4 linked regions of the Homo sapiens genome follow. The protein of the gene in region 2 purifies or fractionates together with the protein of the main gene of each other region. This does not show direct contact. Each region holds a gene or a part of one and is shown on either strand. Other genes may lie near its edges.

Region 1 (7,176 bases), on a different chromosome or scaffold from region 2:
GCCACTGCACTCCAGCCTGTGCGACAGAGCGAGACTCGGTCTCAAAAAGAAAAAAAAAAATAGAGAGTAAAAGGAACAAACGTGCAGTCAGGCACTAGGTTTGAAATTCTGGCTCTATTCTACACATATTAGCTATGTCACTTTGGGTAAATCATGTAACTACCACTTCCCTATCTGTAAAATGAGATGGCTGGGTAAAGCCATGAAGGGCTGGGTAAAGTCAAAATAAATAGGAAAAGACAGTCCATTACCAAAAAACAAAATGGATATCTAAGCACAAGTAGGTTACTTTGCTTGGTTTTGTGAGGTTAAAATGTGAATGTATGTGAAAATAACCTAGGAAAGTATCTAGTACATAGTAGTTCTTCAGTAAGTATTAGTTAAATAAACAACCCCTCAATCTTATTAATACTCACTACTTTGCCTTCTACCAAGTATATTTTTAAACTCTGAGATCTGTCCTATCTGAACAGCTAATTAACACATTGAACTTTTTCAAGACTTGCTAATAAATACCTTTTCCTTTTTAATCTGTGACATTAATTGAGGTAACAAGTGAAATGTCAGAGAAAACACTATACGAGTAAATAAATTTTGATTAAGGAATATCACATTTTCTAGCTTTTCTTTCTTTCTTTCTTTCTTTCTTTTTTTTGAGACAGTCTTACTCTGCTGGCCAGGCTGGAGTGCAGTGGTGCAATCTCAGCTCACTGCAACCTCCATCTCTCGGGCTCAAGCAATTCTCCTGCCTCAGCTTCCCAAGTTGTTGGGATTACAGGTGTGTGCTACCACACCCGGCTAAATTTTTTTTTGTCTTTTTAGAAGAGATGGGGTTTCAACATGTTGGCCAGGCTGGTCTCGAACTACTGACCTTATGTAATCCACCCGCCTCGACCTCCCAAAGTGCTGGGATTACAGGTGTGTGCCACCACACCCGGCTACATTTTCTAGCTTTTCTAACCACAAAGATCAAATTAACCATTTACCTTCATCATCTTCATCTCTTTCTTTATCTTCCAATGCTGATCTTTCCAACTGTCTTGCTACTTCATCCACTGAGGCTCCTGATTCTTTATCAGGTTCCTGTTCCCCTGCTGATCAAAATAAAATAGCAGAAATCAAATCTAATACAGACACTTTCCCACTAGAATATGCTCTAATGATCTTGGAAAACTTACAAATCCTTTCCTCAGGAAACAAAAACAGAAACATTATTGTGAACATAACAGAATTCGTTTAATGACAGAAAAATCTTCCATACCTACACAGTATTGTCCATTCATTAATTTACTCAACAAAATATCCATTACACACACTAGCAGCTAAAAGATAAACAGCGTGAACTGGTCTCTATCCTCAAGTAGTTTAACTTGTAATAGTGGTCAGCAATTAGACTTAACAAATACTTAAACACCAGATAGGTAATAAATGCTGAAGGCCTTAGGAAAAAGATTCATGTGCAACACCCCGGGGCAGCCTGGTTTCATGAATAAGGATATCACGATGGGCTGGGTAAAGTCAAAATAAATAGGCAAAGACAGTCCATTACTAAAAAACTAAAACGCTCAAATATCTAAGCACAAGACCAGGCCCCTGCTCTGGAAGTGATTATAACCTACCTATAAGAGCAATATGTTACATGCATTAATAGTATCAGGTAGCACGAAATGAAGTGACATTCTGGCTACTGGAGAGAATTCATATTAAGAAATACAACTGTTAAAAATACATTAGGATCAGTCAGCTTAACACCTTACAAGACAAACAGCAGTGTTTGAATTTCACTCGAAATCCAGGAACAGCCACCAGAGTAACAAATTTTGCTCTGGAAGAGTTCCAGCAACGCTACAACTCTCCTTCCATTCCTATCTAATCAAAATTTCAGAAAGATGAAGATTAGCTCTCTTCGACCTCTCTCAATTCCATCTTAATCGCTTCTGACTTCTCCATTTTCTGTTTCTCTGGCGATTTTAATTAGAAACAAGTAAAAATAATTTTTATTAAGGTGAAGGAGCTTGTGCAGCAAAAACACAGACTTCTCAAAATATGTAAGTTCCTAGTTCATAATATCCAACTGTAAACTCTCAGCAGTTCTCCTTGCCTTACCAGTGGATTTAGAGGTTAAGACCTCAGAAGTTCCATTCTGAGCCACAGAATATCCTATCTGCACTGCCTGCAATTGGTATCATAATTCAGGTCTAAAGGCCCTAAAGCTTGGCGATGCTATGGGATTAGGCAGGTGAAAATTCGTTATCACCACCACAAATTCTGCAATTAATGACATGAGCGCGCGGGCAAACACACATGTACACACACCCCAAAAGTGCAGGCTGCAACAACCCCAACGTGAAACGGGATAGTGGGAGGAGGTGTGCTCTCCATTACATTTGCCCACCCCCAAAGAAAATAAGTCCTAGCTTGCTCCAGCAAACCAGCAAAGACGCGGCAATACGGATCAGAATCGGATTTTTGAGGCGGCGGCCAAATCGCGCGAAAGATGGTAGGGCTGTGCTCTGCGCACAATCTCAAGACCGTGCCACGATGTGCGTGGGAGCTGAGTTCTGGTAATACAGGGGCTCGGGCCCAGCGACCCCAGAGGTACCACACGCCAACCTCAGGCACTCTTTTCTCCCCCACCAGCCCTCTAGTCCCACAGGAGGAGATGACGCCTCTTCTCAGACTAGGAATCTATAGCCCGGCTTTGCCACCCTGTCAGGCCCAAGAATCAGTCTAGTCGGGGCTCTGGGGCCCCGGTCCCGGCCCCCTCAACGGGCCTGAGCCAAACAGTTCAGCCGTTCCCGGAGGGGACTGGGAAAACATAAAACTCTCTTTACCTGCAGAAGGCCCTTTGCTCTTCTTCTTCTTTCGTCTTTTTTTCTTGGCTGCTTCCTCAGCCGTAGAGGCAGCTCCTTCTTCCCTGTCGTCTGGATCCAGGTCGCCATTCAGGTGGCTCCCGGAGGCCGCTACCTCCTCCACACCCGCCATGTTGCCCGAGAGAGCGCGAGGGAATGAGACAGAGCGGCGAGGGCCCCGATCCTTCTCCACCCGCCTACACCAGCCACGCCGGAAGCTGCTCTCGATGGTAGGGACGCAGGGAATGCTGGGACGGCGGAGGACTCAGCTGAGGGTGTCGGGCTAGCTTCGGGCCGGGCGTGCAGGAGTCTCGGCTTGGAGCCCCGCCTGGCTGGAGTCGACTGGGGCCAGACCCGACTGCTTCGTCCGGTGCCTCGGGCATTCCCGAAGCAAATCGGCAAGCGCAGGGTGAAGTTTAAAGGGGAAGTTGAGCTCTAGAGTCAGCCGGAGATACCTGTGGAGACGGGCAACCCGCCGTAGCAAGCGGCGTCTCTGCTGGAACGGAAATATTTTATATTTGCGTTTTTATAAATCACACAGGCAGTGGGGAAACGGGCTAAGAAATGTGTTCACTTGTACACATTTCTATTGTCATGACTCCACATATCTCTTAAATCTAAGAGATTTAATCAAATCTGCGTTGACATTCACAATCACAGCTCTCCGCGAGGCTCTGTAGGCACTGGAGAGAATTTTGGAAGCTGGAGTTCCGTGTTAGTTTATTGTACTACTCAACCCCGGACGGTTCAAGATGGGAACCCGTCACACTCCGCTCACTTTCCAATTCAGGACAAGAATGACAGGTTTTAACACACGGGGACACGGTCTCTCTCATTAATGCAAAAGATCACACTCCGTTTTCTCTATTTCTGGTCACCTTTCTTTTGGATTTAGGACGTTTCACCAGAAACTAATTGAATTTTGCCCATTTCTTTACTTCTTATGTTTTGAGCCTCATGTTCAAACCGCAGTTTGAGATTTAGTTTGTGGCGTAAGTGGATTGTGATTGGCTGCCTGCACCAACTCCTTCTCAATTTCTCCTGAATATGGCTTTGTCCACCTGGAGAGTTTAGGTGTTTTCATTAGTTTTAAACTAGGCACCAAGCTTCATGGGCATCAAAATGTCGTTAAGAGCCTTATTGCCAGTGAGTTTACAGTAAACCTCACACAGGCTCTGACTGCAGCTGCATAAATGTACATTCTCTGTCTTAAAGCTTCAGGCAGCACCTATCCAATAGTAATAAAAACTGTTCCTCTTATTCTTGTACAGATCTTTATCTCTTTAAATCTATCCCTATTTAGATTTTAAATTGTTTTCCCTAGTTGATTGCTGGCAATATAAAAGTTGGTAAACCGGCCGGGCGCTGTGGCTCACGCCTGTAATCCCAGCACTTTGGGAGGGCGAGGTGGGCAGATCACAAGGTCAGGAGTTCGAGACCAGCCTGGCCAATATGGTGAAACCCCGTCTCCACTAAAAATACAAAAATTAGCCGGGCGTGGTGGCAGGCGCCTGTAGTCCCAGCTACTAGGGAGGCTGAGGCAGGACAATCGCTTGAACCCCGGGGGAGGTTGCAGTGAGCTGAGATTGCGCCACTGCACTCCAGCCTGGGCGACAGAGCGAGACTCCATCCCCCCCAAAAAAGTAAATAAAATAAAAAATAAAAAGTTGGTAAACCAAACATAATACCACAAAAATAAAAATAGAAGTAGCTTCCATGTGTCCAAAATCCTTTAAAATGCCCGGCAAGACCCAGCCATATCTACTTCTCCAATGTCTCCACTCTCTTACTATTATAGCTCCAGCTCTCAAAGCTCTTTCTGACCTTGGAGCATTTCAAACTCACTGTTACTTTTATCTGGGCTGCTCTTTGCTTGGCTGACATATTCACTTATTCACTCATCCATCCATTCGTTCAATGCCTACTATAAACCTAGATCTGGCAATATTTAGAGAGCAAAAACAGAGATGATCCTTGTCATCATAGAGCCAGTTAACAAAAATAGACATCAAGCAATGATGCTAATAAAAGCAAATTTACAACTGCTGCTATGAGAGCATATTACAAAGGGACTTGCCTAGGTAGGATGGCCTGGTAGAGTTTCCTGAGGAAGTAGCAATTAGGCTGAGATCTGAAGGATAAATAGGCAAAGGGGAGGGGAAAGGTTTAGAGAGAGTATTTTTTTTTTTTTGAGACGGAGTCTCGTTCTATCACCCAGGTTGGAGTGCAGTGGCCTGATCTTAGCTCACTGCAACCTCCGCCTCCCAGGTTCAAGCGATTCTCCTACCTCAGCCTCCCAAGTAGCTGGGATTACAGGCGCCCACCACCACACCCAGCTAATTTTTGTAGAGACGGGGTTTTACCATGTTGGCCAGGCTGGTCTCAAACTCCTGACCTCAGGTGATCCACCTGCCTCAACCTCCCAAAGTGTTGGGATTACAGGCATGAGCCATTGCGCCTGGCAGAGTATTCTTGGCAAAGGGAAGGTAAAGAAAAATTTAAGAGGTATTTAAGAGGAGACATGGATTCTAATACTAGAATGGTCATTTGGCTATAATTTTGTGACTCTGGACAGCCCATATATTTTTGAGCCTTGATTTTCTCATCTGTAAAACAGTAGGGAGTATAACACATTTAAAGAACTAAAAAACATCCAGAATGGCTGGAATGCAAAGAGGTGGAGAAGGGAGTGAGTGTGATGAGATGAGACTAGAAAGGTAAGAGCCTTGCAGGAAGGAAAGGGTAGGAGAGCTGACAGAGCCTTTTAGATCATACTAAGGGCTTTATACTTTGTCCTAAGAACAATATAAAACTCTTAAGTATTTTATTTTACTTTTTTTATTTATTTTTCAGACAGGGTCTCATTCTGTTGCTCAGGCTGGAATGCAGTGGCGTGATGTCAGCTCACTGCAACCTCTACCTCCTGGGTTCAAGCAATTATCCCACCTCAGTCTCCCAAGTAGCTGGGACTACAGGCACATGCCACCACACCCAGCTAATTTTTGTATATTTTGGTAGAGACAGGGTTTCACCATGTTGGTCAGGCTGGTCTCAAACTCCTGACTTCAGGTGATCCACCTACCTCCCTTAAGTATTTTATTTTTATTTTTTATTTTTTTCTGAGATGGAGTCTTGCTCTGTCGCCCAGGCTGGAGTGCAGTGGTATGATCTCGGCTCACTGCAACCTCCGCCTCCCGGATTCAAGCAATTCTTCCACCTCAGCCTCCCGAGTAGCTGGGACTACAGGTACGCGCCACCACACCCAGTTAATTTTTGTATTTTTAGTAGAGACGGGGTTTCACCATGTTGGCCAGGCTGGTCTCAAACTCCTGGCCTCAGGTGATCCGCCCTCCTCAGCCTCCCAAAGTGCTGGGATTATAGGCATGAGCCACTGTGTCCAGCCCCCTTAAGTATTTTAATGGTGAGGAGACAGTTAACCTGATGAGAGTTGCAATTAACATGATTAGATTTTTGAAAAGATCACCATGGCTGCAGTGTACAGAGTAGAGTTGAGGGTGGCCAGAATGAAAGCAGGGAGATCAGTTTAGAGGCTATTACAGTCAATAGGTTATAGTGGCTTGAAAGGGAATGATGATGGGTATGACCAAAAAAATGAATAGATTTAAGAGATATGTGGGAGATAAAATGGGCAAGACTTGGTGATGAATTGTATAAGGGATTTGAGAGAGAAGAAGATATCAAGGAATCCCCTTCGGTGTGTGCTGGTGAAACTGGATTGACTGGTAATGTAATGTAAATAACAGAGATAGAAAAACATTTCAGATTTGAAAGGGAAGATTATGAGTTAGATGTGAGACATGCTGAGTCTGAGGTGTCTTGGGGCATTAAAGTGGAGCTGTGAAGAAGGTGGATAACTATAAGGAACTGGAGATCAAAAGAATAGTTGGAGCAGATATAAAAATTTGAGTCATCAACTAATAGATGGGAATTGGAACTTTGACACAGATAAGATCATCCAGCAAGTGGATCTAGACATGAGAGTCTACCTGTACTGCACAGCATGGTGGCCACCTACCACGTTGCCACTGAGCACTTAAAATGCTGCTAGTTCAGGCCGGGCGCGGTGGCTCACGCCTGTAATCCCAGCACTTTGGGAGGCCGAGGCAGGCGGATCATGAGGTCAGGAGATCGAGACCATCCCGGCTAACAAGGTGAAACCCTGTCTCTACTAAAAATACAAAAAATTAGCCAGGCGTGGTGGTGTGCACCTGTAGTCCCAGCTACTCGGGAGGCTGAGGCAGGAGAATGGCGTGAACCCAGGAGATGGAGCTTGCAGTGAGCGGAAATGGTGCCACTGCACTCC
Region 2 (7,592 bases):
GGGTACAACTTGTTTTCTGGGAGCCCTGGGGGGTGACATGAGCCAAGTGAAGGAACGGCAGCCTAGATTTAGGTCTCTGTGAGCCCTTCTTTTCTCAAGCACATTACAAGCATAACTGATGCTTACAACCTGAGACGTGTAACTACCACAGGAGCTTTCATCTTGTGAATGGCAGGTCCTCTGGAAGCCACATAAAGCCAGCCAGGCTAGCCAATGAGGCAGCTCTGCCTTGAAATGCCTCCTCAAGGATCCAAAAGCAGCCAGCAGAGCCCCACTGAATTAAACATTTCCTGGCTCTCCTCTTTCCCCAATGCTTCCCTATCAGATGATCTCACCCAGTGCCCCCACCTGTGGCTCTGTTATCCAGCTGTATCTTACAGCATGTGTCCTAAGGAAGGTACTCAGATCCCTCTCAATATGAAGGCTCTTATACTTACACAATGTGACACAGATCCTCCTCAGAGGACACTACTGCTTAGGCATGCAGGTCGGACTCTAATCTCTCTCATTCACTCTCTATGTTCCCCGTCCCTGACCCAGGGGACAGAAACGACAGAAAGGAAATGATTTTGTTGCTGCTTTGAAAGCAACACTAGTGGGCTTTTATTGAATCAGAGAATAAAACCTTGTCCTATAGGTCACTGAAGTACGTTGCTAGATGGACTAAGCTTGTTAATCTTTTTGTTGTCCCTTGCATAACCTAATCAGTGTTTCCCAACCTTTTCAAAATCCCTGCCTCCCTTCCGCAGGCCAAACAAACAATGCATACCCTTTGCGGTTTATGGAACAAAGATTAATTTCTCTCCTCTGAAAATAAAAGTGTATACTATGCCACCTACCTCACCCTCAGCATTCTTTTCTCCCCTCTACTCCATGCCACTTAAAAAAAAAAATTTTCTGGCCGGCATGGTGGCTCATGCCTGTAATCCCAGCACTTTGGGAGGCTGAGGCAGGTGGATCACGAGGTCAGGAGTTCAAGACCAGCCTGGCCAATCTGGTGAAACCCCGTCTTTACTAAAAAATACAAAAATTAGCCGGGCATGGTGCCTCACACCTGTAATCCCAGCTACTCGGGAGGCTGAGGCAGGAGAATCGTTTGAATCCAGGAGACGGAGGTTACAGTGAGCCGAGATCGCACCACTGCACTCCAGCCTGGGTGACAGACGGAGACTCCGTCTCAAAAAAAAAAAAAAACAAACAAACAAACAAAAAAAACTGTGATAAAGTTTTTAAATTATTCCCACTAATTTGGTTTGTGTGAAGTCTATCAGGTGACAACCTATATTTCACTTTACTAGGGTCATTTGTGATATTCTAAATGAGCTTTGCAGCAACTTGTTCTTTTACTTTCATTCATCTCAGAAAACCGACAAAATTTGATTTCCGGTGGCTGATAAACCTGAATTTGATACCCCTAACAAATTTAGGTGTTCCCTCTTAAAAAAATATATTTATCTTGCCTAGTAAACTGAATTCTTGGCAAGTGTAGGCATTTCACAGGCATGGGGTGTGTTTTAGAGGTTTGAAATCAGGTCATTTCCTAAAGAAACATGTTGTTGTACAGGGAATGTAAGAGCTATAAAGGGCTTTGAAGGTATCAGGATGTCTCCAAGGGACAAGGTAGAGAGACCCTTATCCATCTCATACCAGAAAGAGTTCTGAATAAATTACGTGGAAAGTCCAGAACACAGTAATATCTTCATAATGAGTTAGTTGAACCATTTCTTACAGAGTAGATTACCAGGTGTATCCAACAAATCAAGAAGTTAACCCGTGGAAAATTGAAGGGACTTTTTATGTTTGCCTATGAGCTGTCTGGGGAAATGGAGGAGAGGCAGGGAATACTTTCCATAGCTTGACCTGCTCTTAAGTTCCTGGACATACCTTCCCCTTTTTAAAGTATGATTTAAAGGCAACAATCCATCTCCCCCGGACTCCCATACAAACCTCTTTTGGCAGCCAAATGGTCTTCATCGAGCACACACTTTTCAAAGAATTAAGGACGTGTGAGTAGGTTTAGTTTAGACCCTGCCTTCCCTCTCCCCACAACCCAGTAACATGCTGAAAATAAGTAATAACCTTCCTGGGTACCCCCAGAAAAACCTGTTTGCAGAAACTACAACCTTTCCTCCGAAAAAAACCCCTATCTTCTTAAGGAAGAATCTCAGTGTGGTGGTCTGCAGTTCACTGCAGGCATTTCCCTCCTCACCATTTACCAGTCATCAGTTACGCTGCATCTGAAATTGGTTTTTGTAGACTTTCATTTAGACCGGCTCCACCGGTGCCCAACTGCTTAAAAAAAAAAATAGCCCCTGAACCAATCTCTGGATTCCTCCAGCAGGCTCAAAGCGTTCAATTTCGCTGCAACTCTGGGGTGAAAACCGCCAGGTCCAGCCGGCAGAGCAACCTCCCGGGCAGCACGGAGGCTCCGTCCCCGGCGAGGCCGCCGGCACCTAGGCAGGAGGGCTCTTCGCACAGCTGCGCTAGGAATTCGGCTCCGCTCGCGGCCGCAGGATTAGTTCGAGTCCCTCGGGCTGGCCAAAGTGACACTACATTTCTTCTTCTTCGTTTCCCCATGTGACAGGTCCCCCTGCATTAAAGCCACCTCCTCCTCGGCCCCAGCCCAGGTCCAGCGCTCCTGACGCCCGCGCCCCATCACCCGCACCCTCCACCTGGGGAGGGGGTTCATGCCAGCAACCCTCCAGGCGGGAAACAAAGGCGGAGGCAGGGCTGCCAGGTGGGCAACTCCCCTCGGGCAGACCCGTCACGCAGTGGGGAGGATGGGAAGGTGCCTGAGAGGATAGGAAAAGGGAAACCAAGGCAACCGGGGCTGCATCCTCCCTGAAGCTGGGCTCCCGGGGCAAGCTGACCCCACACCTCCCCGAGCCCCGCCCAGCCCAGCCTAACCCGCTTGCCGGGACCCAGCATGGGAAGGACTGGGGGGACGCCCCGGAGCGCCGCTTACCTCGGGAGAAGCGCTCCGGCTCCCTCCGACGGCTCAGGAGAAAGCCCCACCGCTCGCGCACGCGCTCTCGCGCACTCGCGCCTTCGCCCCTCGGGCCCCCGCGCGCGCCCCTCCGACCAGGCTCTGGCCCGCCCCGGCCTTGTCCGTCAGCGTCCGCGACAGCCAATCCGGTCGCACGGAAGGCTCAGCGCCGGTCACGTGGTGAGACCAGCCAATCACCAAATTGCCCTCGGCAGCGCCCGCTCCGATGTCTCTGGGGGTTCGGTTGCTACCTAGCAGAGCGGGTGCGAGGCGGGCACAAAGGGTCTCTGTTTTCGGGGGCTAAGTGGCACTCAGTTGATCAATTACCAGATCAATTGACTTCTCAAATTCTAATATAAATAAGAATCACTTGACTCTCTTGTTAAAATGCGGATTCTGATCCAGAAGGTCTGGGGTGGAGACCTGAGATCCTGCATTTCTAATAAGCTCCCAGGTGGCGATGACGAAGCTCTTGGTCGGAGGATCACGCTTTGAATTGCACCTGTCCGAAAGTAATGGCTGTAGCCCCAGCTCCACGTAATTTGAAACTTGCACGACCTTTCTTGTCCTTCTTCCACTGATGAGAAGCGTTCCTGTGGCTACATGGGGTGTCCCGGTGATGCTTACAGTTTGGGCACCAGCTGAGGGAAGGTGTGTTTAATCCCCACATTACCCACCCTTGGTCTATGGAGCAGCAATCATGCCAACTTGGTGACTGGAGTGTGGAACCAGAAGTGGAGACGGAATGGCCATGGAAGAGAACACTGTGTCTACGTTAATCCTAAAGGGTTGGGCGTGTGTGTCTGAGTGGCGCGGTGCCAGACACTTGGCCAGAGAAGTGGTATAAGTGGTCCCTGCTTCTCAAAACGTAACAATTTGTTGTAGAACTATACAGGCTAGTTCAGAAAGAAGCATGTGGAGAAAACATCCGGGAAGCTAACAGTCACAGCACAAATTCAGGCATAAGCTAAAGAGGTTGTAAAATAATATGCCTTGAGGGTCTTAAAAACTGTCCAAATATTCTTCTGTCAGTAATTCCAGAGTCTAGAAGTTAGGACTCCCACTGGCCCTGTCATTTCTCAAATTTGACCTAAGGACTCAGTGTTTTCGGACTGGCCAGCTAGAACCTTTGTCGTTCAGCGTAGCCAAGCTCTTATTACCCAGTAGTGTACCGCCGTGGTTCAAGATTCTTAAGTGCTGAATTCTCCAAAACCTTCATCTCTCATCTCTTGAAACCAGGTGGTATAACCCTGCTTCAGCATTTCTCTCTCACTATCAAGGTGATCAAACTGTCGCTTAGAGAAAACTTCACCTTTGTCAGTGTGTCCTGAACTTCTCTGGCTTCTCATCCCCAGAAGTGAAGCCCACCTAGCAATCTCAGACATTGTTCATCACATTGTCCCTATCAGAGATGGCATCGCACAAAATTCAGAGTTTCTGGGAACATGTTAAACCTGTCACAGCAATGGTTCTGGCTACAGCAGGAGTAAAGAAATGTCTAAGCAAGAAAAATGTTTTGAAAGCCTCAAAAAAAGTTTGTTTGCTGTCATTAAACCAGTGGTTCTCAAGCCTAGCTGGATGGTAAGTATTTATGGAAGTAGGTTGTGGGGCCCTGTGCCTGGAGATTCTGATTGGGATGAGAAGTGGGGCTTGGGCAGCTATAGGTTTAAAAAGTTCTACTGGCAATTTGATATCCATCCATGCTTGAGAACACCTGCATAAGCTGCTAGATCGATAGACGCATTTTTTAACAGGGAAAACTAAACTCTGCAACACAAATCACTAATGACATACACACTCTGAAAACAGAAGAAAGTTTCCACATAATTTTTGAGAACTGATTTTTAAAGGCCAAAAATAATTCATAGGTAATAAATACTCCAAAGACTAGTCAATGGAATAAATTGAAAAGCTAGGTTCACAACTAGGTTTAATTTCAATTGATTAACTAAATATTTCTAAAAGAACGTATTGCCTTTTGTTAACCATGCCAAACTGATAAACTCTCTGGTAATAGCTTTACTTGTTTTATGCCCTTCTTAACTAAAACAGATTTCCATTTGAGCATTTATTTTTTATTTTTTAAGTTCCGGGGTACATGTGCAGGATGTGCAGGTTTGTTACAAAGGTAAACGTGTGCCATAGTGGTTTGCTGCACCTAGCAACCCATCACCTAGGTGAGTCTATTTCAAAGATTCCAAGGGTTCCCAATTCTCTTTACTGGCGTTTTACCAAATTCTGTTACTTTTTAAAAGTGATTAGTGCCTGCACCTTGGAAAACTATTGTACAACTTTTTTATGGTGTGATATTCAATGTAGTGGAATATGACCTACTTAGATTTTAACTAAATTAGTGAGATCCCTCAGAACATTCTACCAACACCAGCCATCCTACTCAAAAGTGACTTTATTTGTGACACCAGAAATATGGAAGCCCAATGTGTGAGCCTGCAAACTAGCTTCCCTCCTTCTGTGACACTTTTAAAAATATATTTCACAGCATTCAAATGGGGGAGAAATTTTTCTCACCTTGTAAACTTGCTTTATCTATTGAGTAAAACAAGGACAGTTTTCACTGCTACTTAACTGAGTAATGTAAATTTTTAACTAGGAAAAAAGCATTTATTTTTCTCTTTGTGGGTGTCATTATTACAGAAAGAAGCAACAAGAAACAAAGACTCTTGCTTGAGGATGTGAATTTGAAAAAAAAAATCCAGGCTGTCGTTCATCCTCTGTTTTTCAGTCTACTTGCCTCATACATATAACCTGGTTTTCCTGTCTTGGGAAATGGATATATTAGTAACTTGATATGAGTTAGCTCAAACCAGGTTTCCTACCCCTTAGTCCAGAAATTGCCCAGCAAGAGATTTAGGTATATTTGAAAAGAAAGAAAAAGATAAGATATAAGCCATCCACCATTTTGCCAAGTCCCAGAAATCCACCCATTGTTGTATTATTATTAGAACCCCCATAGACTGCTTTATAATTGCTAATTACCTTTTTATCTCTCTGACAATAAATAGCTTCTCTAAACTTAATTGATTTCATTCATGAAGACCGATAGATTACCCAAGGTTCTAGTCTCCATCTGTCATACAAATCCTGGCAGGATAACATTTTGTGTCTATGTATCTGTGTTTTAATAACTGATACTTTTATCCCTTTACTGTGACTGTGTACAGATTTAACCCAACCACAAGGCATTTTTGTAGAAAACTTGGTTTTCTTTATATTCTCTATAACGAATGTTAAGAATATTAATATTCGCTTTTATATTTTCACAAAACAATTTAGACTTAAAATATGTGTAGATAATATATACCTCTCTGTACCTCCCCCAACTTAAGAAATCAAGCATTATACATACAGTTGAAGACCTCATGTGCCCCTCCCAACAAGCTGATTTTTTTTAAATGGAGATTTCAAAATTTGCAAGCTTATTCACCAAGGAGAGATAATGGTTTATGGAAGGAACACCTATCTCATGCATGTAATAGGCAATACAAGTGTAAATGGGCAAAAGTCTTACTGAATAAAATGTTTGGACATTCCAAACTGATATAAGAAAAAGCTAAGAAAGCTGGAAATCACCTGTGGTTCAAAACCTGTGTCTTAACAATTACAAACTGGACGTGGGAAGCAGGTAAGCTTCAGAAAACAACAGTTTGGAGCAGAGATGAGGTAAGGATTCAGGTTTCATTCTTTCAATCAACACACTACATGAGCCTTGTCTTTTAGCTCATTTTAAGAGAGGTAAGCTACCACAATTCAAAATAAAAACTTTTATGTTACAAGCGAGGCGCATAACACTGTAAGATCGCGTAGAGATGGAGTACCAATTCTGACTGATGAAATCAGGGAAAGCTTTCTGCAAGAAATTATACGTGAACTGAATTCCGGAGTTGTAGGAGTTAACCAGGTGTTGTGGACTGTTTCTCCCCAAAATTCATATGTTGAAACCTCCCATCCCCAGTGGATGATGTTGGGAGGTGGGGCCTTTGGGAGGTAATTAGGATTAGATGAGGTTGTAACGGTAGAGCCCTCATGAATAGGATTAATGCCCTTTTTAAAGTCTCCAGAGACTTGCTTCTGCTCTCTGCCATGTGAGGATACAATAAGAAGTCAGCAGACTGTCATCCAGAAGAAGTCCCTCACCAGCACTTGTCCATGCTGGTACCCTGATCTCCAGCCTCTTGACCTGTGAAAATAAATTTCTGTTGTTTATAAACCATCCAGCTTATGGCACTTTGCTATAGCAGCCCGAATGGACTAAGATGCCAGCAAAGGGCAAAAGAAAGGGTGTTCTGGGCCTAGGGAACAGCCCACATGAAAGCATAAGAGCATAGAGCATTGGGAAAGAGAAAGTAGTGTTATTTAACTGGGTTTAACAGGAGAAGGGGAAAAAATGATGATTGAAAGGTGGGGCAAAGACCAGAATTGAAAAATTGCAAATGCATGATATGCCATTCCTCCCTCCTCCTGTACATATGGCAGATAATCAATCATAGTATTCAACTCTGTTATAGTGATTATGAGTAAAATCTAGGGCTACATGGTATGGGTTGAAATCCCAGCTCCTCCAGCTGTGTAAACCCAGACAATTTGG
Region 3 (7,380 bases), on a different chromosome or scaffold from region 2:
GGAGGTGGAGGTTGCAGTGAGTCAGCGAGACTCTGTCTCAAAAAAAAAAAAAAAAAAAAAAAGGCTTGCCAGCTGAGTGCTGAGGAAATCCAACAATGAAACATTGGGTGGAGGAGGAGGAAACTCCAAAAGACATTGAGAAGGAACAGGCAGAAAGGGAAGGTGACGATCCGGAGAATTTGATATTGTGGGAAGCATGGAAAGTCAGTTTCAAGAAGAAAGTGATCATCTGGTTCTAGGGCTGCTGAGAGGTCAGGTGTGATGGACTGAGATGGTTTTAGTGACACTGGTTTGGGTGGAGGGAACAAGGCCGAAGCTAGATTCAGATGAGTTGGTGGTGCTTGTGTGATGAGAAAATTGAGACCATTAGGTGTAACCAGAAGGGGATGTGGATGAAGATAAGGAGTTTTTATTTGCTTGTTTTTTGAGCATAAGAATGTTTAACAAACACTAAAAGGCAAGCATAACCAGAATTTTACAGATGAGGAAACTAATATACCAAGAGGTTAAGTAACTTGCCCAAGTAGTTTTCACTTATACAGCTTAAAAAAAAAAAAAAAAAAGAATCCAGTTCTACTTGTAGCCACAGTCTGAACTCTAACCAATGGGCTATACCATCGACAAGGGAAAAAACTGGCCCAGACATAATCCAATTTTTGTACCTTTGAGTTAAAAGTCTACAGTTGAGGCTGGGCCTGGTGTCTCACGCCTGTAATCCCAGCACTTTGGGAGGCCGAGGTGGGTGGACCACCTGAGATCAGGAGTTGGAGACTAGCCTGTCCAACTAGTGAAACCCCGTCTCTACTAAAAATACAAAAATTAGCCAGGCTTGGTGGCACGCACCTGTAATCCCAGCTACTCAGGAGGCTGAGGCAGGAGAATTGCTTGAACCCGGGAGGCGGAGCTTGCAGTGAGCAGAGATGGTGCCACTGCACTCCAGCCTGGCGACAGAACGAGACTCCATCTCAAAAAAAAGGAAAAAAGAGAAGTGTTTGAGGCCAGGCTCGGTGGCTCAGGCCTGTAATCCAAACACTTTGGGAGGCCGAGGCAGGAGGATCACTTGAGGTTGGGAGTTTGAGACCAGCCTGGCCAACATGGTAAGACCCTGTCTCTACTAAAAATACAGTGTGTGCGATGGCGCACGCCTCCAGTCGAAGCTACTCCGGGAGGCTGAGGCAGCAGAATCACTTGAACCGGGGAGGCAGAGGTTGCAGTGAGCCAAGACTGCGCCGTTACACTTCAGCCTGGACAACAGAGTGAGACTCGTCTGGAAAAAGAAAAAGAAAGAAAAAGACAGGTCTGTTAGCAGCACATAAAGCCATATGTCAGTAGAGATTAAACCTCCCCACAACTGATGGCTTCATGCTCCAAACTGTACAATATTCTGCTTATCTCTCTTCACTAGTCCATAGAATGTTGCATTATAATGTATCAGTTTTCCTATCTGTGCATCCACAAGCCAAATGGTTTCAACTTTTTTTTTTTTTTTTCGGGGATGGGGGAATCACAGACTTGAGTATATAATGAAGACAATGGATGTTTTCCCCAGAAAAATGCACTCACTCACACACAAAATGTTGAGTATAGTTTCAGAGACCTCCATCTGCATCCCAAAGTAAAAACTTCTACCCAAAATAGTGTTTTTCTTCAGGGCAGAGAGCTTGTCTTTGTTTTGTGTGTGTGTGTGTGTGTGTGTGTGTGTGTGTGTGTGTGTGTGTGTGTAGACGGAGTCTTGCTCTTGTCGTCCAGGCTGGAATGCAGTGGTGCAATCTTGGCTCACTGCAACCTCCGCCTCCCAGGTTGAAGCGATTCTGCTGCCTCAGCCTCCCGAGTAGCTGGGATTACAGGCGCACACCACCACACCCACTAATTTTTCTATTTTTAGTACAGACGAGGGTTTCACCATGTTGGCCACGCTGTTCTCCAACTCCTGACCTCAGGTGATCCGCCCACCTCGGCCTCTCAAAGTGCTGGGATTACAGGCATGAGCCACCGCGCCCAGCCTTTTTTAAATTTTTAAATTTTTTATTATATTTTGTTTTTGAGACAGAGTCTCGCTTTGTCGCCCAGGCTGGAGTGCAGTGGTGCGATCTCTGCTCACTGCAAGCTCCGCCTCCCGGGTTCACGCCATTCTCCTGCCTCAGCCTCCAGAATAGCTGGGACTACAGGCGCCCGCCACCATGCCCGGCTAATTTCTTTTTGTATTTTTGGTAGACACGGGGTTTCACCGTGTTAGCCAGGATGGTCTCGATCTCCTGACCTCGTGATCCGCCCGCCTCGGCCTCCCAAAGTGCTGGGATTACAGGCGTGAGCCACCGCGCCCGGCCCAGCCTCTTATTTGTATTTTTATTGTTTTTTGAGATGGAGTCTCGTCTTATTGCCCAGGCTGGAGCGCAGTGGCACAATCTCGGCTCACTGCAACCTCTGCCCCCGGGGTTCAAGTGATTCCCCTGCCTCAGCCTCCCAGGTAGCTGGGATTACAGGTGTTTGCCACCACGCCCAGCTAATTTTTTGTATTTTTAGTAGAGACGGAGTTTCACTCTGTTGGCCAGGCTGCTCTTGAACCAGCCTCTTATTCTTTTACATACTATTTCCAGCACAACTGTCCAAGATGGCAGTCAATAAATGTTTGGCTAAATATAATAAATAATACGGTTGATTATTTCCACTTTTTCATGTTGGGTTTTCAAAGTCTACTTTTAAAACAGTAAAGTTAACTTTTCTCTCTAGTATTTGTTTTGTAGAATCTATTATACTTTGTAATGTAATCCACAGAAACTTGGAGGTGACTTTAGTAAAATTTACTAGTTTTGAATGATACCCATGCTGAGGTGCTCAGAGGTGAAATGTACTAACATATATCGATGGATGGATATATGGATGCATATGTGATTAAAGCAAATATAGGGAAAATTAACTGTAGAATCTAGGTAGTGGGTATATGGTTGTTCACTGTACAACTGTTTAAACTTTTCTACGTTTGAAAAATTTCATAACACGTTGGAAAAGTGACTTGTTTTGCTCAAGCAGGGGTACATTCAATCTTCAATTCTTGAAAGACATAAATCTATCTTTCCTTCTGTTTGGAAAGCTCTTTAGAGAGTCAGAATAATCCCCACAGTACAGTCTAAACCAGCACACAAGGGTTTTTTGGTAGAAAATAATTTTATTAACATAACCAGGCAATTTACCAAATACAACGTAGATAGCTCAAAACATGGAGTTACTGCGCTGAAAATGTGACCCTGTTTACACAGATTTCGGGACGAAGAGTATAAAACAGGAGAGAAAAGGAGTAAGATTGTGGTTGTAGCGTCATCGCAGAGGTGAAGTGTTCCATTGATTGCCACTGTGGTAGTCTATATCAGTTTCCCACATTAAGGTGGGAGGAATCTACTAAGCAAATGTACGCCCTCCCCATTCGTTCGAAACACATTGCAGTAAAATTGCAAAAGTGGCCGGGCGTGGTAGCTCATGCCTGTAATCCCAGCACTTGGGGAAGCTGAGACGGGAAGATCGCCTGAGGCCAGGAGTTTGAAGCCAGCTTGGGTAACATAGTGAGACACCCCTACCTTCTCTATTAAAATGAGATTTTAATTTTTTTTCTCTTCAGTTCATCGGTTAACAAGATAAAAAAATTAATAAAAAATTAACTTTTTAAAACATTTAAAGTAAAGTAGGAGTGGAAGCAGTATGTGGACTCATGGGGCTTGGGTCTGAATCCTACCTAGATCGGCACTGCGAAATGGGGATAATGATCTCCTAGAGCTGCTGAAATAGGAAAATGGAAGAACAGCAGCTGATGTATTAATATTATCATTATTACTACTACCCATTACCTGACAAGTGATAATTGTGACATGAAAGAGGCTGGACCGGTTGTTACAACAATTTTTTCCGTCTAGAATTCGGCGGTAAGGTCTGAGACAACACCTCAGCTTAGATCAGTGCCTTCTCTGAACAGCGTTCACTAAGCAGCCCCCAACCCCAAAACCCCCAAGTCCCCGGGCGCCGAGGACGCTGCGAGTCCTGCGCATGCGCAAGGTTGCCCACTCGCTCACCGCCTCCTTGGCGAATGGCCTGTTCCATTCTCGAGGGATGCCGGCGGGAGGTGAGGCGGGAGACTTGGAAGCCTGGGCCCGGAAGTGAGGTGCGTCACTAGTATTTCCAGCCTTTCACTCCATGAATAGTACTTTGTGATTATTATACTTCTACCTTGATGATTGCAACAGGCTGCTGGAAAGAGTTTGGTGAACAATCCACCGGGCATCCTCCCCCCTTCACCTGCGCACGTTAGGGAGGGCCGGCGTGGCGCCCAGGTACGGAATCCCAGAGGGCTCCGCCCAGCGCTACGGGGCCCCGCCCCGCCGCCTCTCAACCATCAGGTTCGGCAGCCCGCGGCGCCGCCTGGCAGCTCCTCCTCTTCTCCGCCCCGCCGGCCGCGGGCGCGGGGGACGTCAGCGCTGCCAGCGTGGAAGGAGCTGCGGGGCGCGGGAGGAGGAAGTAGAGCCCGGGACCGCCAGGCCACCACCGGCCGCCTCAGCCATGGACGCGTCCCTGGAGAAGGTCCGTGCCGGGAGGGGGCGATGGGGACGGTGCTGCGGCCCGGGGCTCCCGCTTCCGAGGCAACTGTTTCCCAGTCGCGAGCTGCCATTGTGACCCGGACAGGGGGACGCGGGCTGACAGGCCCTGCCTGAGGAGGCCTCGCCGGGAGGGCGGCTGGGGCCCGGGCGCGTCACGGGGCCGGGTGTCTCTTGGGTCCCCGTGGGCCGAAGAGGCTGGGCGGGGTTCGGTGGGGGCCGCGACGGGCCCGGAGCCCAGGACTGGGACCGCGGGGCCGACCTTGGGCCCTGCCGAGGTTCCGCGAGTGGCCGGCCTGAGCTCGGCTGGCCCTTTCGGAGGACCGGGAGCTCTCCGTTGGCGGCCCCAGATGCTCCCGGAAAGAAGCCGCAGTTATTTCAGAGCCAGCTGCAAACCTGTAGGTTTTTCTTGGTCTCCGAGTTAGGAATGAAAATTGCCAAAGCAGTGGTTTTCCAACTTCAGCCTGAGTGGGAATCACCTGGGGCCTTTGGTAAAATGCGGAGGTTCAGTCCCGGGGTCAGAACCTCTGGGGGCGGGACCGGGAACTGCGTGTTTAACCGCCACCGCCCCGCTCCCACTCCGCCCCACGCAGGTGATTCTGATGCTGAGCCTGCGATCACCGGGCGAGAACCTCTGAGTTCCAGAAAGGGGTGGGTGTTGCGTAGATTGCGAATTGAGTTTTGGGGATCGCAGCTGCTCCACAACTTCCTGGCTCCCCCATTCCAGTGGCGAGGAGGGATCCCCGAGTCAACTCGAAATCCACTGGTAACAGAGCCTACCTCTGGTTTCCCCTTGGGGGAACGGCAGCGTGGTGTACCAGGCTGACTGCTCTACCATGTGAAACGGATTCTCATTGTCCCAGTGTTAGGGCTTGTAAATGGAAACCAGTTTGGGTTTCTTCACGGATTCCTGCTTTCGGTACCTGACATTCTGCCCTCCCTCAAAGCCCTTCTGTCTGTTCCAGCTTGGGAGTCTGCTTGTCCAATCCAGTGCATACCCGGTTTTTCATGCATGTGGCATTCAGGAGCAATGCTCGTGTTTTAAGACGGCTACATTTTAATTTTGAGCTGGTAGGAATAATATATTTTGTCTTTTTTCAAGGCAGCAGCTGCTGTAGATTTTGTTCACTTGTCACTGGAGAGTTGAAGGCAATAATTGTAAAGGTTGGGCCAGATGTCTTCATGTGCTCACAGTGGTATAGCCTACTCCTGGGTTGCTTAGCATAAATTGGGTGGAAGACAAGAAAAAGATAATATGGTTTTCTTGTGCCATCTCTGGGGTGAATGTTACGTGTTTTCCTGGCTGGGAATAAAGTCTTTCCGGTCGTCTGATTAGCAGGGTGTCTACCTTTTGGTACTTTGAGTTTGTCCAGATGAGTGGTTCTTAAAGCAGGGGGCAATTTATTTCCCCAGGAGACATTTGGCTATCTCTGGACATAGTTTTGATTGTCACAATGGGGGCAGGGAGGTGCTGCCGGTACCTAGTGGGTAGAGGCCAGGGACGCCTCTAAACATCCTACGTTGCACAGGACAGCCCCCCACGCTGGAGAATTCTCTGGCCCAAAATGTCAGCAGTGTTGAGGCTGAGAAATCCTGGTCAAGATCATGTTTATAACACCAGCAGTTGAGTACAAAACGATGCAAAGTGGTGTTATCAATTTCCTAAGAAGGTGGGTGGGCTTCATGTGATTGTAATTGGAATCCTGAAGAACTGGGGTGATCTTTCCTCCAGGAATAATTAGCCTTTATAGGAAAATCTGCAGGGTGGGTCAGAATCCTGCTTTAAATATTACTTTTCTGGCATTTGATCAGTAGGTTACAGTAGTTGCTCCCTAAGTGTTAATTGATGATAAAAGATCTTAAACTCTCTCAATGAGGATCGCAAGAGGGACTGAAATTCCAGTGTGTTTAATATTGGAGCATTCACAAAAATTGTAGTGATCTTTTAGGAATTCAGAACGTGTGGGCTGGAGGTTTCTGCCTTAGGTCAATGTGAAAATTCTGAGTGTAAGTTTTTCAGAACTATGGGACTTACTTTTTTTTTTTTTTTTTTTTTTTTTTTTGAGAGGGAGTCTCGGTCTCTTGCCCAGGCTGGAGTGCAGTGAGGCGATCTCGGATCCCTGCAACCTCCGCCTCCCGGATTCAAGTGATTCTCCTGCCTCAGCCTCCCGAGCAGCTGTGACTACAGGCGTGTGACACCACACCCGACTAATTTTTGTATTCCCAGTAGAGATGGGGTTTCACCACGTTGGTCAGGATGGTCTCAAACGCCTGACCTTGTGATCCTTCAGCCTCAGCCTCCCACGGTGCTGGGATTACAGGCGTAAGCCACTGCACCTGGCCGGGACTTAGATTTATATTCCCTGAAGTAATACAGGGCCTTAGATGGAATAAACGATTTATATTGGTGCTAATTGGGCAGAAAAGAAAAAGCATTGCTGTAATATGAATGTTGATGACTTTATGTTCTGAAAAATAGTCTGGGTCAAAGTGAAACATTTAATTGTGTTCATTATTCCTGTTTCTTTGAGGAATAGACTATCCTGCGTTAAATTCTACATTGTTAATATAAACTCAAGAGCTATGTGAGCAGTTGTAAATGATCCCATTTAAACTGATTGTTGCATAATTTATACTGATTACAGAAACCACAATGTTATTTGATGCTCACCCTCTAAAATTTAAAATAATATCTCTCACTTTAAAATGTATGTGAAAAAACAAAAACAAAATGTAGTATGCGATCATCATTTAGTAGAATCACTCAGTGATTTGGATTTGGTCCAAATATAGTTCTGTC
Region 4 (7,258 bases), on a different chromosome or scaffold from region 2:
ACAACATCTCAGAAGATGGCGTACAAAACTATTTTTCTAACTATAGCACAGGTAATGTGGGGGTGGGGAGGCTTGGGATATACCTAAATGTGGCAAATGATTTATCTTCCACCTTGAGGGATGAAAAGGAAACTATGCACTTGAATTTTAATTAAAATTTTAATTTAATTCATTGGATAGCTTGTGCCAGAAAGAACAGTCAATATTCAAGAAGCAAAACTGACGATTAGCTCAGTTTCGGGCCTCCCTGTCGGGGGAGTTTTCTTGTCTGGAACACAAACACCTACAAGTAGAGTGTGAGCTGGTTCTTGACAATCAGATCTCATCAACCCTTTGAAATGTTCTGGGCAGCACAGCTCCTTGGTCTGCATGGTTGGTGTAAGTATAATCAAGTAGTGAAATTGTATGGTATATACCTATATGCCAACAGTGTACACCCGTATGTGCAGAATTTGCTAATATAACCATTTCAATAAAAACCTATTGAAAAAGCTGATTTGACCACATGGAGTATTGTTGGTGGTGACGTGTATCACTGAGGACTCTCTTGGTTACAAATGACAGAAAACCCAGCCAAAACTGGCTAACACAAAAGGGGAATGTCATGGCTCCCAAAAGCCAAAATGCCCAGGGGTGCCTATGTCAGGCTTGGTGTGATTTCACCCTCAAATGCTGACACCAAGACACATGCCAACTTTGCTCCTCATTGGGAACCCCATCCCCAGGCTCAGGGTGGCAGTAGCTCCATCAACACAAGAGCCAGTCCCCAGGAGGTGGCCCAGGTCAGGACGGTATTTCCCTGGCCCAACTGACTTGGTTGGAGGCACATGGCCATCACCAGCCAGCCCCTGTGATCACAGATAGAATGCACCGATGGCCTCAGCTGGCATGGGCTCCACCTTCACAGCCCAGGAGTCCATGTGTCTTCACCTGACAGACAAGAGCTGAGCGTTCTAAGGCACGGTTCCCACTGCAGAAAAACAAACGACACTGCACAGACGGGAGAAGTGAATGCTGGGGGCAAAGGCAGCACGTGTCTGACACGTGTGGAAAAGCACTGGAGCCAGAGGCCGGGTGCAGTGGCTCACGCCTGTAATCCCAGCACTTTGGGAGGCCGAGGCGGGCAGATCACTTGAGGTCAGGATTTCGAGACCATCCTGGCTAACATGGTGAAACCTCCTCTCTACTAAAAATACTAAAATTAGCCAGGCATGGTGGCACGCACCTGTACTCCCAGCTACTTGGGAGGCTGAGGCAGGAGAATCGCTTGAACTTGGGAGGCAGAGGCTGCAGTGAGCCAGGATCATGCCACTGCACTCCAGCCTGGGCGACAGAGTGAGACTCCGTCTCAAAAATAAAAAAATAAAAAAATTTTTTAAATGGGCAAAGGACATTTCTCCAAATAGACATTTCTCCAGATAAAATATACAAATAACCCAAAAGCCCATCATCAGTCATCAGGGAAATGGAAATCCAAACCACAGCGAGATACCATTTCCCACCCTCTAGAAATGAGCATCAAAAAAAAAGAAAGACAATAACAAGTGTTGACAAGATATGGAAAAACTAGAACTCTTTTTTTTTTTTTTTTTTTTGAGACGGAGTCTCACTCTGCTGCCCAGGCTGAAGTTGCAGTGGCGTGATCTCGGCTCACTGCAACCTCCACCTCCCGGGTTCAAGCAATTCTCCTGCCTCAGCCTCCCGAGTAGCTGGGACAAGCATATGCCACCACGTCCGGCTAATTTTTGTATTTTTAGTAGAGACGGGGTTTCACCGTGTTAGCCAGGATGGTCTTGATCTCCTAACCTTGTGATCTGCCCACCTCGGCCTCCCAAAGTGCTGGGGTTACAGGCGTGAGCCGCCGCGCCCTGCCTAGAACTCTTACACCCAGCTGGTGGGCATGTGGAATGCTACAGCTGCTTTGGAGCGCAGTGTGGTCACTGCTTAAAAAGTTAAACATAGCTGTACCACATGACCCAACAATACCACTCCTCAATATATGCCCAAGAGAATTAAAAACACATATTCACACAAAGACTTGTACACATGTTCATGGCAGCATTATTTATAATAGACGAGGGGTAAACAATCCAAATGTCCATCCAAATGAATAAAATGCGGTGCATCCATACCGTGGGGTACTATTCAGCCATAAGGAGGAATGAAGCATCAATACGTGCTACAACGTGGGTGAACCTCGAACACATGATGGGAAGTGAAAGAAGACAGACACAAAAGACCACATATTGTAAGGTTCCATTTATATGAAGAAATGGCTAGAATGGGAAAAATGTATAGAGACAAAATAGATTGATGGTTGCCAGGGCAAAGCCGGGGGGAAGTGGGGAATGGCAGCTAATGGGTAAGGGGTTTCTTTTGACTTGATAAAAATGTTCTGGAATTAGTGATGATGGATGCCCAGCCTAGTGAATATACTAAAAACCACTACGTTTTGCACTTTAAAAGAGTGAACGTTACGGAATGTGACTTATATCTCAGAAAATCAAAAAGAAGTAAGCTTAGCACGCACATACTAAGTGATCGATAAATGTTTGTTCTTTTTCTTCTTATAAAAAACCATTCTCGAGGAGTGGTCTCCAGGTCAGCAGCATCAACATCACCTAGGAACGAGTTAGCAGTGCAAACACCCTGGGAGGGAGGGGGCAGCAACCTGTGTGGCTGTTTTTTGTTTTGTTTTGTTTTCAGATGGAGTCTTGCTATATTGCCCTGGCCGATTTTGAACTCCTGGCCTCAAGTGATCCTACCACCTCAGCCTCCCAAGTGGCTGGGACTACAGCAGCCTGTTTGAATCAGCCTTCCAGGTGATCCTAATGTATACCCAATTTGAGAACCACTGGGATTAAGGAACAAGACGACTCTTTACCTCCTCTCAGGGTGTTAAAAAGTGCAGTTCTTCCAAATTCTTTCCCTCTAGAGAGCACAATGACAATATTAGTTCAGACTTCCAAGGTGTTGAAGAAAGCCCGCCTCTGCATCTTGAAAGCTGATTCCTATATCCAGCAACATTGAAGAAGACTGCAGATCACTCTGGGTGTCAACTGCATGTACCTACATCCATCGCACCAAGATTCTTGAGTGCCAATCACAGAAACCCACCTGGAAGTCAGGTCCAGCTCCAAGGATGGTTTAACTGCCCCCTTCCCTTTGCCCTCTAGCCAGACCCTGGTGAGGGTTCCAGCCAGCAGGGTGACCCCACATCCCAGTCGACCCCGGACAGGCCCCAGGCCCGTTGTCCCAGGTGGAGTTGACAGCCCCCTCATGCAGAAGGCTGTGTGTGGACTGGCGCTGCCCCTGCAGGCCAACACTGGGAGACCAGGGACCCGCATTCGCCTGCAGCCAGCCTCACACTTGCGCAGAAGCCGCCACTGGGCCCAGGGCCAGTCCAGACCCCATCCCCAGGGCCGGCCAGCCTCTGTGACCCGTCTGTCAGGGGAGGGGCAGCACTGATTTCCAAGGATGCAGCCCGTATCAGGGCCTCCTGGCACCTGCCCTGCGCTGGAAGATTCTTCTAGTCTCCCGGCCCCAGTGTCAGAATTCTGAGAACTGGCCGGGCGCGATGGTTCACTCCTGTAATCCCAGGACTTGGGAGGCCAATGTAGGCGGATCACCCGAGGTCAGGAGTTCGAGACCAGCCTGGCCAACATGGTGAAACCCCGTCTCTACTAAAAATACAAAAAAATTAGCCGGGCGTGTTGGCGGGAGCCTGTAATCCCAGCTAAAGAGGCTGGGGCAGGAGAATCACTTGAACCCGGGAGGCAGAGGTTGCAGTGAGCTGAGATTGCGCCACTGCACTCCAGCCTGGGCGACACAGCAAGACTCTGTCGAAAAAAAAAAAAGAAAAGAAAGCTGAGAATTAGGAGGAACTGCAAACCCTTTCCAGGCGCCCTTTGCAGTGCTAACACGCCCCGGGTTGCACGCGCAACCAGCCAAAAGCCGCCAAACTCTGCTTCTTGACATCCTTCTCTCACACTGCACAGCTTTCAAAACGCCAGAAGCCCTGCTCTGCACAGCGGCTCCCCTGTCTGCGGACTGGGCCGTTCCGTTCTGGACCCAGGCCGGAGGCCGTGGGCTGCACCGCTCCAGGAGGCCAGGCTGGCGCGCGCCCGAGGCCGGGGCTGAGGGGGCGGCGCGGAACTCGGGCCGCGTGCGGGAGCGCCACACGCCCGCCAGGGGGCGCCGCCCGCCCGGCCCCGCCCCGCCCCGGCCCGCTCCGCACGCTCCGCTCCGCACGCTCCGCTCCGGGACGCCGACGGCGGCGGGCGCTTCCGTCTCGCGGGCCTCGGCCCGGTGCGAGCGGCTCCGCGATGTGGCTGAGCCCGGAGGAGGTGCTGGTGGCCAATGCGCTGTGGGTGACGGAGCGGGCCAACCCCTTCTTCGTGCTGCAGCGACGCCGGGGCCACGGCAGGGGCGGCGGCCTTACGGGTGAGAGGCGCGCGGGCGGCCGGGCCTGTGGGCGCCGCGGCTGGGCTGGCGGCGGGGCTGGCGGCGGGCGGCGGGCGGGTCCGGTTCCGGCCCGGCCTCGGCGCGTCGCGGCGGACACGCACGCCAGCGCGCGGCGGGGCGGGGGCGCGAGGCCAGGACCCGGGAGCCGGGCGCGGAGGGGCCGGGGCGGGGAGGCGAGGGGCTGGCGGGAGGCGAATGCGCCCTCGGCGGGCTCTCCTCAGGTCGGCTTGGGGCGGCCAAGTGGAGACCGGCGGCGGCTTCTGCCCGGATTCGGCGCCCGCGAGCCCCGGGGGCCGTGCAGCTTCCCGGGATCTCACCGCCGAAAGTTGGCGAGACCGCCCTGTCCTCATCCTCCACCTCAGTTTCCCCAGGTGCCTCTAAGGGGCCAGGTGACGCCAGCGCACGTTTTCTTTTGCCCTCTTCTTCGTGCCCATCTCACCAAAGTATCGCCCTTTTAGCAAGATCAGAGGTCCCTGGAGCTGGCCGCACCCCCATTCCCCCAGCTTCTCCTCCCCCACCTTTCCTGCTCCTGGCTGCTCTCAGAGCTGCGCACCCAAGGCTGTGGGTAGCGGCACAGGGTGTTCCTGCAAGCTCGCCAAGGTGGCCCTTTGTGGGCCCGGGTGCCACCATCACACAGGATGAAGCTGGACAGGCACCCTTGGAGTCGTGCGGCCTGTGGGATCCAGGGGAGGCCCACAGGCCACTCCCTCCGCAGGTGGTGTCCGGGGCCCCTCATGCTCCAGGGCCTGCGCCCAGCACTGCAGGAGCCCGGCTGGCTCGGGCTCAGTGCCTGTGCTCTTCGGGGCACCGACTGTTGCCCTACAGGATTGCGGTCCCAGTGTTGCCAGGTCGTCCAGTTTATCAAGAGCATTTTCTGTGAATCATCCTGATTTTCAGTGTGAGCAGCTAATAGCCAGATGCAGACGGAGGCTTCTCCTGGGCCACGTTTCTTCATGTGGAAGAGACTGTTCTGTTCCCAGAAACACTCAGTGTTCCCTTCAGCTTCGGGTTCCCTCCCAGTGGGCTTCAAGGATCTCGGGCTCCTGTTCTGGACCCGCCTCCTAGATCCAGCTGTTCAGTCGGCAGCCCCTGTGGCTAACCTCGAAGCTACTGCAAGCCCGATGAAGAAAGCGAGGGACCGGCACCTTTTCTTCCGCCAGCGCGCCAGGGTGTCATCAGCGCGCCAGTGTGTCATATTCGCTGGTGTACTTGAAACACTTGTGCTGTGCTCGGCAGGCTTATGTGGGTCGTCTCATTGAACGGGCGGGTGCAGGTGCAGCCCGGTCTCTGTACACCTCCTTCCTGCGGGCTCTTCTCCTTTCCACCTCACTCTCCGTGTCCCCTGGGACCGAGCTCCCAGGGTCCCCCCAAGGGAACCCTTCTTTGAACCCTCTCCCAATCTCTCCCCACTGCTAGGTTTGGTGTGTCCTGCTGTGCCCTCTGACAGGGCCTTCCCTGTGCCATCATGGGCATCGTGGCCTCCTGAGTACTGTCCTCCCTGAAGAGGAGCAGACAGGGATGTGGTTTTATCCAAGCCATCTATTAAAAACATGCCAACCTAGACTTTTCATTAAAGAATCTGAATAGCTAGCTTGGCCAACATGGCAAAACCCCGTCTCTACTAAAAATATAAAATTTATCCAGGCATGGTGGCACGCGCCTGTTATCCCAGCTACTCGGGAGGCTGAGGCACGAGAATCGCTTGAACCCAGGAGGTCAAGGTTGCAGTGAGCCGAGATGGCGCCATTGCACTCCACCTTGGGCGACAGAGCGAGACTATCTCAAAAAAGTATTAATGGACTATGAAACAAAAGTGTTAAAGTTGAATAACAGCAATAAAAATTGTTCTGACATCAACAGGAAAAATGGTAACAAAATATTTTCAGATCATGCCAAAAGCAGCACTTCGTTAAAAGGAAGAAAAAATTTCAAGTAAAAACAATAAACAGGTTTTTAGATTGCTCGATAATTCAATTAGTGAATCAAACAATGATAAAAGCTATATATTTCCTGCTGATTTGTCAGGAAATAGTGACACTGACAAAGATAGCATTACCTAAAATATAAAAGCAAAGATAGCGTTGCCACAGACTGCTTAATGTGTGTCATCTATCAAAGGGGTATATGTGATGAGAAGAAAAACTTGAAATGCCCTCAAATGTTTCAGTTCAGAAATGAAAAAACTTTATATTTTCCCAAATTTGACAATTCTAAAGATCGACTTCTTCAGTTATGATTTTTTGAGGCTAAAAGAAACTTCCTTAAACTGTCGGTAATAAAAAATCAGTGAGTCATGGCAAAGGGGAGACATTATCTTTCTGTTCTTGATATGGAAAATAATGTTGCAGAATCATTGTCCTGTGTGTGAAGAAGCGATGAGTACAGGACCAGAACTGTCCGGAAGACGTATTTCAGGAGACGCACATGGCAGTTAGGAAAACATTGTGTTGGTTTTCTGGATTTTGTGATATTTCTGATATTGTTCTTTTTTAACTTTAACGTGTAGCTCTGTACTTTCTCGGTCTAAAGCAATACTTGTTTTGTAGTCTAGTTTTGTATACGTAAAGAGGGCTTCCCAGAATTGTTTAAGCTCTGGCCCCATGAAACTTGTATCTGCCTCTGCCTGCAAGTGTTTCTGAGCCAGGAGAAGAAGCAGATGCTTCCAGGAAGAAGTAGAAGGGGATGTTTTTGATCGGGATCAGACACTGGCTGAAGGCCTTTGACCGCAGGGGTCATTCCGGACGTTTCCCTCGTTGGGCTGGACCCTTTGGGTAGCGTCACCATCCTGTCTGCC

The links.
Region 1: the proteins of TMEM108 (region 2) and METAP2 purify together in Homo sapiens (affinity purification with mass spectrometry; 2 studies listed by BioGRID and IntAct, with this or other methods). This does not show direct contact.
Region 3: the proteins of TMEM108 (region 2) and PDXDC1 purify together in Homo sapiens (affinity purification with mass spectrometry; 2 studies listed by BioGRID and IntAct, with this or other methods). This does not show direct contact.
Region 4: the proteins of TMEM108 (region 2) and TBC1D9B purify together in Homo sapiens (affinity purification with mass spectrometry; 2 studies listed by BioGRID and IntAct, with this or other methods). This does not show direct contact.

What each region holds. Positions count from the first base shown.
Region 1 is NC_000012.12:95,469,989-95,477,164, reverse strand, and holds the start of METAP2 (methionine aminopeptidase 2), read right to left. Parts: upstream 3,014-7,176; 5' UTR 2,986-3,013; coding exon 2,835-2,985; intron 1,095-2,834; coding exon 987-1,094; intron 1-986. UniProt on the Homo sapiens protein: Cotranslationally removes the N-terminal methionine from nascent proteins. The N-terminal methionine is often cleaved when the second residue in the primary sequence is small and uncharged (Met-Ala-, Cys, Gly, Pro, Ser, Thr, or Val).
Region 2 is NC_000003.12:133,033,809-133,041,400, reverse strand, and holds the start of TMEM108 (transmembrane protein 108 isoform 1 precursor), read right to left. Parts: upstream 3,011-7,592; 5' UTR 2,966-3,010; intron 1-2,965. UniProt on the Homo sapiens protein: Transmembrane protein required for proper cognitive functions. Involved in the development of dentate gyrus (DG) neuron circuitry, is necessary for AMPA receptors surface expression and proper excitatory postsynaptic currents of DG granule neurons.
Region 3 is NC_000016.10:14,970,655-14,978,034, forward strand, and holds the start of PDXDC1 (pyridoxal-dependent decarboxylase domain-containing protein 1), read left to right. Parts: upstream 1-4,371; 5' UTR 4,372-4,545; coding exon 4,546-4,566; exon of another isoform or gene 4,567-4,930; coding exon of another isoform or gene 4,931-4,978; intron 4,979-7,380.
Region 4 is NC_000005.10:179,904,889-179,912,146, reverse strand, and holds the start of TBC1D9B (TBC1 domain family member 9B), read left to right. Parts: upstream 1-4,249; 5' UTR 4,250-4,325; coding exon 4,326-4,443; intron 4,444-7,258. UniProt on the Homo sapiens protein: May act as a GTPase-activating protein for Rab family protein(s).